2 linked regions of the Homo sapiens genome follow. The protein of the gene in region 1 purifies or fractionates together with the protein of each later gene. This does not show direct contact. Each region holds a gene or a part of one and is shown on either strand. Other genes may lie near its edges.

What was found. Proteins that work in one complex are often made in the same cells at the same time.
Region 2: the proteins of PCDHB13 (region 1) and TNFSF8 purify together in Homo sapiens (co-immunoprecipitation; one large-scale study listed by IntAct). This does not show direct contact.

The regions. Positions count from the first base shown.
Region 1 is NC_000005.10:141,211,841-141,217,439, reverse strand, and holds the start of PCDHB13 (protocadherin beta-13 precursor), read right to left. Parts: upstream 3,522-5,599; 5' UTR 3,317-3,521; coding exon 920-3,316; 3' UTR 1-919. UniProt on the Homo sapiens protein: Potential calcium-dependent cell-adhesion protein. May be involved in the establishment and maintenance of specific neuronal connections in the brain.
Region 2 is NC_000009.12:114,916,650-114,921,451, forward strand, and holds part of TNFSF8 (tumor necrosis factor ligand superfamily member 8), read right to left. Parts: intron 1,490-4,802; coding exon 1,447-1,489; intron 1-1,446.

The sequences.
Region 1 (5,599 bases):
TGTCATAAAAAGACTAAGCATTGTTCACAAGCATTTATTTCTATTAAGCTTGTGTGTTTCAAAATATGTAAAATATAATCTTAACTATTGGTTGCAGTAAAAAAAGTTTGAAAAATAGTTTCTGGTGTATATACATTAAATTATATGATAGTACAGGCAAAAATTTTTACACATTAACACACAACTCCAATTTATGCTATATGAATTATTATTTGGGCACAGGCATCTGCATTCAACTAGATTGCACTAGAGCTTTGTGACATTAATTAAAAAATTATAGCTTCATATTCCCAGATTCTGTGATTGGTCACAATATTAATGTGCCTGCACAATCCTCTCCAGGATGAATGAGGAAAGGATACTAAAAAACTGGTCTTCTGACCCTTTCGAATCAAGTGATAACACTTAGAGTTGTATCATAGGATATAGGTTTTCTGGTTTATTTTTGAAAGCAAAAAGCATATTTAAAGGTTAACTAAAAACGCACTGGATTTACAAAAAAGAAAAATGATATGTCTGAATAGGAGTCATTATTTTAAGACTAAAAAAAGAGAATCAAATGAAGAAATGCTGGAAAATTGGAATCACTTCCAAATTGCTCTATTTAATTTTACCATAAGCATAATAGTGGGTGAAGTTCAGCTAAAGATAGGGGCATGAAAAAAATGTGATTTGGTATTGCTCTTTAGGGAGGCAAATTAATTACAAATTAAGACCATCTGGGTTAAAGAATGAATTGTCACCTTTTAAGAACCAGGAATAAAGGTAAATGTTCACTTTAAAACAAAGGGAGAAAGAACATGAGAAAAATCAAGAGTAAATCCGTACAATATTACATACACACAAATTGGGGGAAATAAACATTGGCATGGAAATGCCACAAAATAAAATACCTATGGAATGTAAAAGTCAACTATGGTCACTGAATATTGAACCCAAAGTTATTGGGGAAGGTAGAATTTCCTTGTATTTCTTTCCCAGGGCACTGGGGAGGGAAGTTGGGGATAATCGGCTTCAGGAACTTGAACTCATTGGTCCCTGAGCCTCCTGCCAGACACACCTCATACTGGTAGCTCTGGGATAGGGTCCTGGTGCCGCTCATGTCCACAAGATGCCCTGGAAGGGGGCCCTCGGGCACCAAGCAGCGACCCACCGAGGCCGCCCTGCTCCTCCTACACAGCCGCACCGCCACGAACAGGAGCACCGAAAAGAGGAAGAGCGAAGACACCGAGGCCAACGCCACCACCAGGTAGACGGTGAGCAAGTCGGCCTGGGCCTGGGTCGGGGCCGCCTCCGGGAGAGGCAGGTAGGGCTGGGAGAAGCCGTCCACCAGGAGCACGTGCAGCGTGGCGGTGGCCGAGCGCGGAGGCTCGCCATTGTCCTTGACCAGCACCACCAGCCTGTGCTTGGCCGCGTCGCGCTCGCTCAGCAGCCTGGCGGTGCGCACCTCGCCATTGTGCGCCCACACGCCGAACAGACCGAGCTCCGTGGCCTTGAGCAGCTGGTACGACAGCCAGGCGTTCTGGCCCGAGTCGCCGTCCACCGCCACCACCTTGGTCACCAGGTAGCCCGGCTCGGCCGCCCGGGGCACCAGCTCGGTGCAGGGCGCGGAGCCGTTCTGCAGCGGGTACAGCACGAAGGGCGAGTTGTCGTTGGCGTCCAGCACCACCACGCGCACCAGCGCCTCGCTGCTCAGCGCCGGGGAGCCGTGGTCTGAAGCGCCCACGCGGAACTGGAACCCCTGCAGGGCCTCGTAGTCCAGAGACCTGAGGGCGAACAGGTGGCCGTTGTCCGCGTTGATGGAGACCAGGGATGTGAGGGGCAGGTGCGGGTCCTGGGGCGGCAGCAGCGAGTAGGTGACCTGGGCGTTGGTGCCTGAGTCTCTGTCTGTAGCGCTGACGCTGCGGATGTGCAGGGCGGGGCTGTTGTTCTCGCGGACGAACAGGGTGTAGGAGGTTTGGGTGAAGGCGGGAGCGTTGTCATTGACATCGGCGATCAGCACGGTCATATTGAGCTGTGTTATCAGCATAGGGGTCCCCAAGTCAGTGACAGTGATAGTGATGTTGTATTCCGCTCTGCTTTCTCTGTCTAGTGGTCTCTCCGTTAGTAGGGTGTAAAAGTTTTCCGCGGATTTCAGGAGGAAGGGTAGATCCTCCTGAATGGAGCAACTAATTTTCCCATTTTCTCCTGAATCAAGATCTGAAACACTGAAAAGTGCAACCACAGTTTCAGGCGCGTTCTCAGGTATTGGGCTGGTAAATGCAGACATGGTAACTTCTGGGGCATGGTCGTTCACATCTATCACTTGAATCAGAACGGTGCATTTTCCAGAAAAGGTTCCAGCATCTCTTGCCTCAATATTGACTTCATAGGACTGAAGTTTTTCGAAATCGAGTTGTTTTTTTAGTTCAATTTCTCCTGTCAAGGGATTGATCTTAAAGGTTTTGCCAATCTCTTCTGAAGCTTGGAAAAGTGAATAGGAAATCTCTCCGTTGACTCCTGTGTCTACATCCGTGGCAGAGACCTTCACAACCAGGAAGCCTACCGGACTGTCCTCAGAGATCTGCACTCTATAGAAAGGCTGCTCAAATTCAGGGGCATTATCGTTGACATCCAGGACTTCGATGTAGACCTGAGCAGTGCCAGATCTGGGCGGAGAGCCACCATCCAGTGCTGTGAGTGTTAACCTGAGCTCAGCTTCTTCCTCTCGGTCCAGCGCTTTGTCCAGCACCAGCTCTGGGTATTTCCTGCCATCACTGCGTTTGCGGGTGAGGACCCGAAAATAGGAGTTGGGGCTGATTATATAGTTCTCAATATTGTTTTGGCCTACATCTAAGTCTTCGGCATTCTTCAGAGGAAACGTAGTCCCAGGAGGACTGCTCTCTGATACTTTCACCAACATTTGTTTGTCCAGAAATACTGGAGAGTGGTCGTTTATGTCTATTACTTGCAGCTCAGCTTGAAAAAACTCGAAGGGACTCTCTAGCAACACTTGGAAACGTAGCACACAGGGCTCTGTGTGACCGCACAGATCCTCACGGTCCAATTTCTCATTTAGCAACAAATCCGCGGTCTCCTGATTGAGCTGCAAATGTAGTTTGTTCCCTCTGGAAACAACCCTAACCCCCCGCCTGGAGAATTCCCTCTGCTCCAGACCCAGGTCCTTTGCTAAATTGGTGACAAAGGAGCTGCCCTCAGTTTCCTCCACCACAGAATAGCTTCTAGGTTCCGCCGCGCCCGCCAGAGATAAGCCCAAAAGGAGAAAGGAAAAAAGGACTTGCCTTTGTCTGCAAATGAGCTTCCCGCTGGCCTCCATTGTTCTTGCTGGATTCAGCTTCCTGGGAGGACGGTTCTGTGGGACTGTAAAGTCCCCAGTATCTGAGGCTGTGGTTATTCTACAGATACCTCAGAAATATGCCAGTGAGTAGTCCTCTCCAGAGGACCCAGCCGTCCTCCCTTTGGCATCCAAGCTCCCCGTGGACTTCCAGGTTCTGCTGCTTTTTGCCGGTTAATGGAGCTGCAGCTGCGGTTCTGGTTTGTGCCTTCTTATCCTGCAGCGCCACCACGCGTCCTCACAGGATCTTACATTTTGTGGAATGATAATGGATGTAATATTCCCAACTCTGCCTGTATGCACCCCGAGACTATGTAAGGTTACAACACCACCGTTAATATCGCCGGACTTTAGTGAGCAGACAACTGCCCAAAGGAGAAATCACATTAGTCTTTCAACAATGATAACTGAGTTTTGGGCAGAAAGGAAATATTTAGGTAATAGTCTAGCTTGGCAAAAAGAATTTCAAATATAATTGTAGTTATCATGGACAACATTTAGATCTTTATAGTTTTATTTCCATGAACCATAGGAATAATTAGTAGCTGTGAACCTCGAACAAATTATTTAATCTCTCTGCTTTAGTTTGCTCCTCTGTAAAGTGAGGATAAGAACAGTACCTACCACATAGGGCTGTTGTGAATTCCCCACCTTAAACATGAGGAATCTAATGCAAATAGATATTAACCTTAAAAATAAGGTATATACCAAGTATAAAGCAATTTGATGCCATCAAGTAACTGAGTCTTGATGGCATAAATCCATCATAAGTCTAGCATAAATCCATTACTATAACTAGATAAACACCTCGAAATTCAAATGGTAGAAGAATACAGGAGCATGACTATCTCAGGTAGAGAGGTTATGTCCAATAATGAAAGGAAATGAACAAGGAAAGGCTGGAGAGTTTGTCTAAATAGAGACAATATCTGTAACAGCAGTGGTGATTTTGTTTCTGGGAAGGATGTCCTTTTTTATTACCTCCACTTCTAACAGCATCAATTAAAAGACATTATTTTGAAATTTTTCAAATCTCATAAAAGAGAGGAGTATAATGATCCTCCAAGGACTCAGTACTAGCTTCAACTATTATCAATGTTTTGCCATAATTCTTGACTCTATCCCTTCAACATTTTCACATCCCAGACAAACTGAATTTTCTCCCACAAATACGTCATTATACATTTCTTTAAAAGCATCATGACTTTAAATGACTCTAAAAATATGCTTAAGTACAATGCCATTATCATACCTAAAAATCAAGTTAACATTATTTAATACCCATCTATATTCAAATTCTTCCAAGTTTTTCAAAGTCATTGCTGTTGTTTCAATCAAGATCCAAAAAAGATCCACACATTGTATTTGAGTGGTAGACCTCTTAAGATTTTTCCTTGTGTAAACTTCACTCCTCTTATTTTTTGAGCCATTTATTTGTCAGAGAAATTGGATAATTTTACCCTGAGACCATGAAAGCAATTTTAGATTTTACTACTGTGAGTTTTTGTCCTTAGATTCTATCCCACCAGTGATATGCAGTAATACTAGCTTTATTAGAGTTACTGGCACTAGTTTATAATATATTTAGAACACAACTATGCAAAAATTACCTATTTTAAATATAAGAATCGGTTATATATTTTTAACAAACAATGCTTCTCCTTAACTCCCCAAAATTTCTAAAAATTTAATGATCATCTATATTTCTCTTTGATATTACACATTTAAATCTATTCTTTTTCTTAAATTTTCCTGATTCAGCAGTGCAGTATAGGTAAGAAAAACTGCTAAAAACAAACTCTCAAATCAGGAAAATATATTACAAATGTAAGCATGGGTGACTCTGGAAATATACTACAATGTAAAGAAAATAATTAACTAATAATGCCATCAAAATTATGTACTATTCCTAATCAGGACCATTAATCTTTTCTGTGAAATGATAGTTATATGTTCAGGAGACAATGAGAAGGCATAGGTTGCTCTTTCAATTTTGTTTTTTACTTAAGATTTGGGCAGATCAGAGCATTAGTAATAATAGCTGAAAATTTACCCAGAAAAGCAAGATTACTGGTTTATAAGAAAATGAAATCATAGATAAAGTTTATTTCTAAATAAAGATTGAACAGTAGTATGAATACGATAAAAACTTTTCTTCTCTTTAGTTAGGCAGAAACTTGCCAGGTGATATCCAATGACAAAAACAGTATGGAATGGGAGCAAAGTCACTGACTTAGAGTCAGGCAGATCTAGGATGGATGCTCA
Region 2 (4,802 bases), on another chromosome or scaffold:
TCCAAAGCCTGCAGTGACTCCTCCAATTCATAAGCCAAATCCAGCCCACCACCTCATTTGATAAATAACGTTTTATGGAAATGCAACCGTGGTTACTTATTTGCGTGTAGTCAGCCTGGCTCAGCACTACAACAGCAGAGCTGACTAATTGCAACAGAGACATAGTGACCCCCAAAGCCTAAACGTTTACTATCTGGCCCTTCGTAGAAAAAGTTTGCTTACCCCTGCATTCTACTATGCTCCTTTTAATATTAATGTGACTGTTTACATAGACATGGTAGGAACTGAGGTCACATGCTAAGTAATTCCAGCCAAAATGAGATATTGTTGACAAGGCTATGATTATTAGTCTGCCTTGAAAGATCCAGAATCCCTGTCTTTTGGGGACTTTTGCCCCTATTTTTGAAGTCTCTGGGTGATAAACCACAGGAAAGGCATGGGCAAGGGAAACTTGAAGGACACTCCAAGTGTGATGCTGTGAGTGTGAGGAGCTGTGTCCAGTCATCTGTGTCCTCTGGTCTCAAGGACACTCTTGTGCCACTACCCTGGTGCCTACATTAACTCACTTCCTTACTTTTTGCTCTGAGCTTTCTGGCTATCCAGCTGTGTTTGCCATCTAGGTTCTAAAGGTTACAGGACTGAGATGGGAGTTGGTGTTCTTGGGCAGAAAAGACACTGTATCAGAGATGAGGACATCTTTCTGGGTTCTAGGCTTGGCTTTGTATGACCTTGGACGAGATACTTCACTTTCCCTCTCTGGGTCTTCCTTTTCCTTCTCTGAGCAATAAAAACATTAATCAGGTCATCTGAAAATTTCTCATCATCGATGTTAACTGAACTCGGCATATCATCTCTCTGAGGCTAGTAGAGACGACGTGTTAATTAGTGACTTCAATGATTGGAAATATAGGAGTGAGGAGGAAGTCTGTTTTCACAAGTCCTTGACTTCATTATGCATTTTAGCTATTACTAGTTATTTAATGATTACTATGTGCTGGTTGCCATGCCAAGCAATTTACAGATGAGATCTGAATGGCTTCTCCAATACCTTGATGAGGTGAGTATTATTATTATTCCCATTTAACAGATGAGGAGTTGAGGCTCCCCAGTGGGAAGTCAAGCCAAGATTCATTCCCCCATTTATCTGATTTCAGGTTTCAAGCATTTAACACAACACTGCCTTGCAGTCCTGCCTATGCCAGAGGTAGAATTTTCATTAGTGGGAGTGTCAAGAGCTGGTGGGAGACTTGTGGGGATGAGTTCAGGAGCTGCTAAGATGAATTCAGGTGCATCAGCTCAGTCCTGAACAGCCCTTGCCTCCACCCCTACCCACTTTACTGTTGGGTCATGTCATAGAGTTGTTTCTGGTTGATAATCAGGTTTCACACTTTATGGCATTTATCTAGATGACTTACTACACATTTACACCTAATTCCAAGATCTTACCTCCTTTGAGGGGGACGTTGTCAGGTGAGTTGGGAATGGAGTCCTGGAAGAAAAGAAAGAAAAAAGCAGCATGAGGTGTGACATTCAGTTGAAACAACTTTTTTTTTTCTTTTTCATTTTGTTGTCCTTAAAGTACTGTGCAATTTACAATTCATCCTCCACCTGAATTTTAAAAATTAATTCACTGATGTAGTTTCCAATGGGCTTTCTATCCATTTGTTTGACAATCTATTAGAAATGCAAGATGAGGATTACTGTCCCCGTTCCACAGGCAAGAGACACGGGGTTGAGTGAGATAAAATGACTTGCCTAGGGCCACATAGTTAATTTATAGAAGATCAGGGACCAGAGCTGGGACTTTTTTTTTTTTTTTAGACAAAGTTTTACTCTGTCACCCATGCTGGAGTGCAGTGGTATGATCATGGGTCACTGCAGCTTCATCCTCCTGAGTTCAAGCGATCCTCTTGCCTCAGCTTCCTGAGTAGCTGGGAGTACAGGTGCACACCACTACACTCAGCTAATTAAAAAAAGGAGTCTTGCTCTGTTGCCAGGCTGGAGTGCAGTGGCACTATCTTGGCTCACTGCAACCTCCGCCTCCCAGTTCAGGTGATTCTCCTGCCTCAGTCTCCAGAGTAGCTGGGACTACAGGCACCCACCACCACACCCAGCTAAGTTTTGTATTTTTAGTAGACACAGGGTTTCACCATATTGGCCAGGTTGGTCTCGAACTCCTGACCTTGTGGTCCACCCGCCTCAGCCTCCCAAAGTGCTGGGATTACAGGTGTGAGCTATCACACTCGGCTAGAGCCAGGACTCAACTCCCAATCTGGTGCTTTTCCCCCCTCCATATGTTTGGGTGTTTTTTTCTTTTTTTTTCCTTCTGGTCAACATGAGAATAATCAAGTATATCATAAAAGTAGATGTGTTTTTTTTTTTTCCATGTTTGATTCATCTGTGAACGTATGTTGTAAACATACCTGGGAAGGTACATCTCTATGTCTCCTGTGGTTGGAAATTCTGAATTAATTGTGTGTTTATATGCCAAGCATTGTGAGGACACCATACATAATTAAATTGGGTCCCCATCCTTATGGATTTATTACAAGTTTATATTTAAATATACAAATATGTATACACATGTAGTATACATACAAATGCATATTATATATTTAAACATTTACATAGTATATTATTTATTCTGTAATAAATATATACATAAATATTTACACAAATAAGAGGTTGATAGAAACAGATTGTCTTTTGAAGGAGGGAATCCTGGGCTGGGGATTGAAGGTGACTAAAGGGAGGTTCTAGTTCAAGGACTCTCAACAAGGAGTTAACAGAAGCAGAGAGGCACAGTTCTTTTCCCCTAATAAATTCTTCAGACACTAAGTTTCACACCCTGATTGTCCCTCCCCTTTCTCTCCAGCCATGGAGACACCCATACAATATTCTGCCAATAAGGAATGAAGTATTTTATTCATCTTTTGACCTGCCCAGGTTGGAATCTCCTGTATTGCATTGAATTAAAATATTAGTAAAGACCTAGAGAGGTGTGAGCGTGTGTATGCGAAAAAACCAACTTCCTAACCTCTACCAAAGCAAGAAATTAGCAGCCGCCCACAGCTTATTTTCTTAGTGTTCTGTATGAACACTAGGACCATCTGGAGTTCCCCTATTATTGTAACATTTCCCTGGGAGGTCTGTCATTTGCCTTCCGCTGAAAGCTTGTTTTCTTATGAATGGATCTCTTCTCTAGTGCAAGAGGTTGGTAGTGAGTCAAGGAGGTCTCCTGAAGGCAAAGCCCTGGCACAGCACCAATCTGGAGATGGGGGAAGTCAGCTTAAACATTTGGGCCCTACCTTCTCAGGGGAAGGGAGGCAAACTTGTCCTGGAAGGCCCTTCCTACTGTAACAGTCTACGACTTTGTTGCCTTAGTTGAAAGCTTTTAACCTAACAAAGCTAAGTTTTTGTAGTCTTTCAGTTATGCATGCAGTTTGCAGGAAAACTTGATATCACAAAATTCCCCTTTATGTTGCCCTTGTGAGACAACACACAACATTTTAAAATTTAATAAACAACTTACAACTTACTGCCAAGCGTGACCATTGATTAGCATGATGTGCAAATGCACTAAGAAAAATATCTGCATTGAAATGTCTTACCACAATCATCAAATTCATCAAGCTGCCCAGGGACATATACAGGGACAGTGAGAGAGGCTAGAATAGCAAACCTGGTACAGCCATCATTGCAGAGGCTGCTAGCAGTTCGGGAAGTCCTAGAGAATCATTCATGCAGCACACCTTGAATGAGCACCTGGTCTGTGGTAGGAACTACGTTAGTCACTAAAAGACATCCTATGGATTTTATGCTTTAGTCATTAAGGCAGCCATTTAAAAAATATAAATAAATGTGTAATTAGAATTGCAGGTTGTGGCAAGAGCTATGGAGGAAAAGAATCATAGTGCTTTAAGGTAGTGCTGTTAGAACTTCAATGTGCATATGAATCACCTGGGAGTCTCGTTAAAATGCAAATTCTGATTCTGCAGATTTGGGGGGAGTTTAACATTCTGCATTTTTTTCTTTTTGAGATGGAGCCTCACTCTGTCACCCAGGCTGGAGTGCAGTGGCGCAATCTCGGCTCACTGTAGCCTCCATCTCCTGGATTCGAGCAATTCCTCTACCTCAGCCTCCCCAGTAGCTGGGACTACAGGGGCCCACCACCACCCCCGGCTAATTTTTGTATTTTTAGTAGAGACGGGATTTCGCCATGTTGACCAGGCTGGTCTTGAACTCCTGACCTCTTGTGATCTGCCCGCCTGGGCCTCCCAAAGTGCTGGGATTACAAGCGTGAGCCACCGCACCTGGCCAACATTCTGTATTTCTGGCAGCTTTCGAGTAATACTGACACTCCTGGCCCACAGAACACTTTGAATAGCACAGCTGTGAGAAGTAATATCAGAGAGGAGGACCTAATTTATATGGGGGTCAAGGAAAGCCTCTTTTCTCTCTGTCACTTGAATGCATTCTGGTTTCCTAATTTCAGACATGGGATGTCAAAAGCAGAGCATCTCAAACAGGAAAGAAACCTGTCATTTAAACCTTCACCCAGGGCCCAGGAAGTCCATGACAGAAGCGTGACTATTCCTATTTTGAAGAGCTCTTGGGATGAGGTCTTTACAGCTTCTCCTAGCTACCCATGGTAGTCAAGATTAGACAATCAAAGCCAGAGGGAGATTGAGACATCTTTCAGTCCATCAAGCTAATTTTATGGAGGAGGAAACCAAGGCACTCATGAGTCAGAGGCAGATCTTGGACTGAAATTCTCTGGTGTACTTTCCACTGCCCTAGGA